2 linked regions of the Homo sapiens genome follow. The protein of the gene in region 1 interacts with the protein of each later gene in a pairwise test. Each region holds a gene or a part of one and is shown on either strand. Other genes may lie near its edges. The genes, in order: TNFRSF10C and LRSAM1.

Region 1 (4,024 bases):
CGTGTATCCAGGAGTGGCAGGGCAGTGAGGCTCTAGCTTCTAGGTCAGGGATGGGGACAGTGGGGACAGTGCCATGCCCCGAGCCTCTGCCGTTGGGCAGCTGGTATCCTGCTTCCAGCCAGAGAATGCACATCTTCATGTAGTGGATTTCCTAACAACCCGGGGAGATGAAGGTAGGTTGTTTTTCCTGTTTTACAAGTGGTAAAATGAGATTCAGGGCTAGAGTTCTCTGAGCAGCTGCTTCTCTGATCTCTGTCCTGCCCTTGGCCTCTGGGAGCTCTTATGGTTCCTCAGCAGAGTTCACAGGGCTCTTGGAGCCTGTCCTTCGGCCTTGAGCTGAGGCCACAACTGCGCGCACTTCATAGGCTTGAGGGGAAAGTGATTCATCCAGGAAGTAAACAGTGAGCCCTTTACTCTGAGAACACCTGTGCCTGGAGTCCGCCGGAGTTTGGGAGGACAAATGAACCCCATGTGAATCCTGTTCCCTGGAGCCCGCAGTGTGGTGGGAGAGGTGACCCAGGGATTATATAACTAATAGGAGGTAGCATGAAGGAGGCCTGAGATCTCACTACCCTTGCCTCCCCCTCCTCCAGAGAGGCTGTGCTGGAGAGAGGCCATGCTGTTGCAGGGCCATAGGATGTGGTACTGTTGGCCTGGAAGATGTGGTTTGATTACAGTCACCATTGAGGGTCAGGGAGGGGAGCGAAGCTCTCCTTTAGATGCCCCCCCACCCGATTTTTTTTTTTTTTTTTTTAGCTGGGCCTGAGAATTTGATTCACCTAAGAGAGGTCCACAGGAGACAAGCACACACATTTATTTAATTCAAGTTTTACCTGGCATGGAAGAACCTGTGAGAGTCAGTTACTTATTTACTGAATTAGACCAAGTAACTCATGAAGAAGCAAGTAACTATGTGAGGAGCTAAAAAGATGAGAGTGGATCCATTCTAACATGGTCTGCACAGTACCCTCTTGGCCTCGACTTCTCATCCTTAAAAATAAGGAAATTGTCAGCTGGGTGCGGTGGCTCACGCCTGTAATCCCAGCACTTCGGGAGGTCAAGGCAGGTGGATCACGAGGTCAGGAGATCGAGACCATCCTGGCTAACACAGTGAAACCCCGTCTCTACTGAAAATACAAAACAATTAGCGGAGTGTGGTGGCGGGTGCCTGTAGTCCCAGCTACTGGAGAGGCTGAGGCAGGAGAATGGTGAGAACCTGGGAAGCAGAGCTTTCAGAAAAAAAAAAAAAGGAGATTGTCCTATGTTTCCCTGGGGACTTTCATCTCCTGCTTTTAGGAAACACAAAAGAGGTCAAAGGATCTTCTTGCACCTGTTGTTTTTCAATAGCCTTTAATTCATAATAGTCAATTGACCAGGGTGGGCAGGGTGCGATGGCTCACACCTGTAGTCCTGCCAAGACAGGCAGATCACTTGAGCCCAGGAGTTCAAGACCAGCCAGGGCAACATAGCAAAACCCGGTCACAACAACAACAACAAAAAACCAAACAAACAGAAAAACAGAAAAACACAGAAAATTATGTCGTGTGAAGGAATCCACACAGAATGCTTACCATCTGATTCCATTTCTCATTAAAATTCGACCAATCTATTCTGACAAAAAGCAGAATTATTGCTGGGGACATAGGAGCAAAGCGGAAGAGAGGATTACATTGAAGAATGAAGAAATTCTGGGGTGTGGTGGACATGTCATTTTCTTATCGTGGTGGTAGTTCCACAATGTATACACACGTCTCAATCTACCAAACTACATGCTTCAAAAATGTACACTTTGTTTCATGCCCATTATACCTCAATGAATCCATTTTTAAAAAACCTTCAATAGAATGTAAACACTTGAGTGTATACTGTATTCCCTATAGCACTTGCACATAGATCATGGAAATAGGTATGCATAAAAAGTCAGTTTATCCAATTAAAATGGAATTCTAAAAGGTAATTAACATTAAAATGTGCAGGGGGAAAAGGAGTAAAAAAATTAGACTAGACAATCATAGCTTAAATGGTAAACTTACAGGTCTATTTCAACTATATCAATTATTGCACTCCCTGTAAATCCACTGAGCACTACAGTTCAATGGTAGAAATGTTTGGAAGGGCTGAGAAAGCAAGACTCAACTATATCTTGTCTATATGAGATGGGCCTTAAAAGGAAGACACAGATGTTGTCTGTTGAAAGTAAATAGATGGAAAAAGATACACCATGCAGAGTGTAAGGCCAAGAAAACTGCCATGGCTATCTCAGTATCAGATGAAGTTGATTTTGTTAGCGGTGGATGAGATCCGAGTTACCCTACGTTGAAGGCGGCGAATCCGTATGCGTCCACAGCACCTTCAGCTCTTCGCCTCCTGAGAAGAAAGAACTGGTTTGAGGGGCATAAGGCAGAAGCAGAGATGGAGGCAAGTTTCAGAGCAGGAGTGAAAGTTTATTAAAAAGCTTTAGAACAGGAAGGAAAGGAAGGAACAGGAAGGAAAGGAAGGAACAGAAAGAAAAGAAGGAAAGTACACTTGGAAGATGGCCAAGCAGGTGACTTGAGAAACAGTACGCAGCCGGACCGCCTGAGTTGGGGTTTTATAGGTTGGCCTACTTCCAGGATCTTGCCTTACTTCTCCCCACTCCTGAAATCTTATTGGGAAGCTGCTGATCAGTTTCAAGTGTTTTCTATGTATTAGGAAACTGCTTTTTTCTGGCATCGGCTGTAACCAGTTATTACTTTAGAGACACAGTTATCAACTACCTGATGGTCGCCCAACACTGCTGGTGTCAGAAGCGGGGACCCCTCTCCTGTCCTGCTCATACCTAACTAGCTGCCTACTGTGACAATTTTAGGACATTGAATATTATGGGAGATGAAAAGGGACCTTTGTAGTTAAAAGGGTTAATTCTTCAAGGAGTATAATAACAACAAATTGTATATGCCTAGTAATACATCTTCAAAACACATGACACAAAAATAGAATTAAAAAGAGATTAACTCAGCTGTTTCTCTGCACTTGCTAGCATGATTAGATGAAAATGCCAGTAAAGTGGCAAGCGATCTGCACACTATCAACCACCTTGATTTAACTGACATTTAAAGAGCAGGAGTGGAACATTCACTGAACACTCATTCCTTTCTATGCTCATGATACTTTCACCAAGATAGACCAGGTTCTGGGCTATAAAACACACAATATGATCTCTAAACTTAATGAAACTAAACTGGAAATCAGTAACAATATCCACAGAGAATTCTAAAATTTTGATATTGAACAACACACTTCTAAAAATCTGTGGTTCAGACAGGAAATCAAAAGGGAAGGTAAGATATTTCAAAGTAAGTAATAATGACAATATAACACATCAAAAGTGGTGCGAAATAGCTAACAGTGCTCAGGGTGAAATATACAGCTTTCAATGTTTGTATTAAAAAACTGGGGGTTAGGGAGATGGGGAGTTACTGCTGAAGGGTATGTAGTTCCTTTCTGGAGTGATAAAAATATTCTAAAATTGATTATAGTGATGATTGCATAGCTATGAGTATATTAAAAACTGCTGAAGTGTGGACTTTAAATGGGTGAATTATATGAATAATCATAATTATTAATTATGTGAATTGTGTCTCACTAAAGCTGTCAAAAAAAGAAAAAACGTGAAAATTATGGGCCGGGCACGGTGGCTCACATCTGTAATTCCAGCACTTTGGGAGGCCGAGGAGGGTGGATCACGAGGTCAGAAAATCGAGACCATCCTGGCTAACACGGTGAAACCCTGTCTCTACTAAAAATACAAAAAATTAGCCAGGCGTGGTGGCGGGCACCTGTAGTCCCAGTTACTTGGGAGGCTGAGGCAGGAGAATAGCATGAACCTGGGAGGTGGAGCTTGCAGTGAGCCGAGATTGTGCCACTGCACTCCGGCCTGGGAGACAGCGAGACTCCATCTCAAAAAAAAAAAAGAAAAAGAAAAAGAAAATTATGGCCTGAGGAGCTACATTAATCAATCATAAAATATAAGTGTAAATTTAAA
Region 2 (3,500 bases), on another chromosome or scaffold:
TCCATAGATATGGAGGGTACCTGTGTGTGCACATGTATAAATATTTCTCCAAGGCCTTTTTTGTGCATTTTCATTTTTAAAAAATTAGCAGTCAGTCGTGGTGGCTCACACCCATAATCCTAGCACTTTGGGAGGCCAAGGCGGGTGGGTCACTTGAGGTCAGGAGTTCAAGACCAGCCTGGCCAACATGGTGAAACCCCGTCTCTACTAAAAATACAAAAAATTAGCCGGGCGCGGTGGCGGGCGCCTGTAGTCCCAGCTACTCGGGAGGCTGAGGCAGGAGAATGGCGTGAACCCGGGAAGCGGAGCTTGCAGTGAGCCGAGATTGCGCCACTGCAGTCCGCAGTCCGGCGTGGGCGACAGAGCGAGACTTCGTCTCAAAAACAAAACAAAACAAAACAAAACAAAACAAAAAAAAACACCAGCAGAGCATGTTGGCTTGTGCTTGTAATCCCAGCTACTTGGGAGGCTGAGGCACGAGAATCACTTGAACCCAGGAGGTGGAGGTTGCAGTGAGCTGAGGTCGTGCCACTGCACTCCAGCCTGGGTGACAGAGTGAGACTCTGTCTCAAAATAAAACAAAATAAAATAAAATTAAATTAAAAATTAGCAAGTACAGTTAAGCAAAGGGGGAAACATCTATAATTTTACACTGTGGAGTACCACTGTCAATATTTTATCGCATATTTGAAAGTCTTACATATTTATACAATGGAGTGTTTCTTTTTAACATATTAGTATCTAGGCATACTGTTTTATAGCATAGTTTTTCAGTTAACAGTAAAAATAAATATACATAAAATAAGAAAATGGTATAATGGTTTGAGAAGGAAAATGAGGCGGGAATGATCAACACTGAGTGGGAAAGGAGTGGCAGGCACTCTGTTTCTGCACTGGGGGTGTGAGGTGGCCCCAGCCCCTCCTCAGCGCTCTGGAGCCCGGAGTCTGAGGGACTTTCTCACTTGGAGACTCACAGGGGTCTTTCTTCTGCAGGTTCTAGATCTCCACGATAATCAGCTGACAGCCCTTCCTGACGATCTGGGGCAGCTGACTGCCCTCCAGGTAAGGCTGCAGAAACAGAAACCCACCTCGGATGGCCTTAGTGAGACCAGGCAGTCACTCAAGCCTGGAATGTTCTGGCCGGGCTCCAGCCAGTGGAAGCAGGCTGCAATCAGTGCCAGCTCCACCCTCCCCTTGGCCCTTTGGGGTTTTTTTTTTTTTTTTTGAGGCAGTGCCTCACTGCGTTGCCCAGGCTGGGGTGCAGTGGCGCCATCAGAGTTGCAGAGGCAACCTCTGCCTCCCGAGTTCAAGCGATTCTCCTGCCTCAGCCTCCCTAGTAGCTGGGATTACAGGTGTGTGCCACCACTCCCAGCTAGTTTTTGTATTTTTAGTAGAGATGGTGTTTCGCCTTGTTGGCCTGACTGGTCTCAAACTCCTGACCTCAAGTTATCCACTCACTTTGGCCTCCCAAAGTGCTGGGATTACAGGTGTGAGCCACCACGCCTGACCAATTGTACCACTTTGAGCCACAATAAATACCTTGGTGTAGGACTTTTTGTATGTGTATTTTTTTTTTCTCACTCTTGTCACCCAGGCTGGAGTGCAGTGGCACCATCTCAACTCACTGCAACATCTGCCTCCCGGGTTCAAGAGATTCTCATGCCTCAGCCTCCTGAGTATCTGGGATTACAGGCACACGCCACCACACCTGGACAATTTTTGTATTTTCAGTAGAGACTTGTTTTCACCATGTTGGCCAGGCTGACCTCAAACTCCTGGCCTCAGGTGATCCACCCGTCTTGGCCTCCCAAAGTGCTGGAATTACAGGCATGAGCCACTGCACCTGGCCAGTAGGTGTATTTTTATAGAATTGCTGCATTCACTAATTTGTAACTTTTGGATACCTGACAATAACTCATAGCATCCTTTGGTTCATCAAATATTCATCTTATTATTTTTAATGGCTACTTAGCTTTCCATTGCATCATTTTTTGTTTGTTTGTATTTTTGAGATAGAGTCTCGCTCTATCACCAGGCTGGAGTGCAGTGGTGTGATCTCGGCTCACTGCAATCTCCACCTCCCGGGTTCAAGCGATTCCCCTGCCTCAGCCTCCTAAGTAGCTGGAATTACAGGCGCCCACCACTATGCCTGGCTAATTTTTTATATTTTAGTAGAGACGGGGTTTCACCATGTTCACCAGGATGGTCTCAATCTCCTGATCTCATGATCCACCCACCTCAGCCTCCCAAAGTGCTGGGATTACAGGTGTTAGCCACCGTGCCTGGCCCCCATTGCATCTATTTTTAATGGTTAGTGTGTCATCCTGCTAGCCTTGCTCACCTCGAGGTACCACCTTCTGGAGGGAGCACAGCTTCGGAATCCAACAAGCCCTGGTTCAGTCCCAGCACCACTGCCGGCCTGAGGCCTTGGGTGGATCACACGGCCTTAGGGCAGCCTTTTCCTTAAGGCCAGGGGAACTAGAGCCTCCTGTGCTGCCTCCCCAGATCCCCAAGTCTGTAGTCCCCTTCTCCCTCCTTCCCTGATGGTGGGGCAGTTACTGAGCATTTTGTGGTCGGTGTAAGTGCTGGAACCTCAGCCAGAAGGGGTTCAAGGCCTGGCTGTGCTCTCCTGAGCACGTGACTTTGCCACCCTGAGCTTCAGTTTTTTTCCTGTCTCCAGCGGAAACAAGAATTTCTGTCTTCCTCAAGGGCCGGTAGGGGGAGATAAGAGCTTGTGTGTGTAGTGCCTGGGTGCCCTGGCCCGGCAGGGCGAGGGGTGCGGGGGTCATCACTGTGGTCTGTGTGTGGGTTCTCGTGTCACCTCTTCCTGTTTCTTTCTTTTTTTTTTTTTTTTTTTTTTTTTTGAGACGGAGTCTCACTCTGTTGCCCAGGCCGGAGTGCAATGGTGCAATCTCAGCTCACCGCAACCTCTGCCTCCTGGGTTCAAGCAATTCTCCTGCCTCAGCCTCCCGAGTAGCTGGGACTACAGGTGTGTGCCACCATGCCCAGCTAATTTTTGTATTTTTAGTAGAGATGGGATTTCACTATGTTGGCCAGGCTGGTCTTGAACTCTTGACCTTGTGATCCACCTGCCTCGGCCTCCCAAAGTGCTGGGATTACAGGCATAAGCCACTGCGCCTGGCTGCCTCTTCCTCTTTCTTAGGTCTTAAACGTGGAAAGGAATCAACTGATGCAGCTCCCACGTTCCATTGGGAACCTGACCCAGCTCCAGACTCTCAATGTTAAAGGTAGGGACCAAGAAGCCGTGTCCGTGTGACCCTCCATCAGCTCTGGGCCATCCTGGCCGGGATCCACAGGCTGCCCCGCCCGGGAGCCATTGAGCAGGAGGGCAGCCAGTCTCCGGGGGTCGCTGTAAATGGACTGACCCCTGCTGGGTCAGCTGTCTTCATGGTAACCAGAGACAGGCTGTCTGGAGGGTTCCTGTGGCTCCTGAGAGCCAGGGCCGTATGGCCGTATGGGGAGGAGGGCAGCTGGGCCCC

Evidence for each region.
Region 2: the proteins of TNFRSF10C (region 1) and LRSAM1 interact in a two-hybrid assay, tested with the Homo sapiens proteins (one large-scale study listed by IntAct).

What each region holds. Positions count from the first base shown.
Region 1 is NC_000008.11:23,105,694-23,109,717, forward strand, and holds part of TNFRSF10C (tumor necrosis factor receptor superfamily member 10C precursor), read left to right. Parts: intron 1-4,024. UniProt on the Homo sapiens protein: Receptor for the cytotoxic ligand TRAIL. Lacks a cytoplasmic death domain and hence is not capable of inducing apoptosis. May protect cells against TRAIL mediated apoptosis by competing with TRAIL-R1 and R2 for binding to the ligand.
Region 2 is NC_000009.12:127,458,010-127,461,509, forward strand, and holds part of LRSAM1 (E3 ubiquitin-protein ligase LRSAM1), read left to right. Parts: intron 1-993; coding exon 994-1,062; intron 1,063-3,163; coding exon 3,164-3,248; intron 3,249-3,500.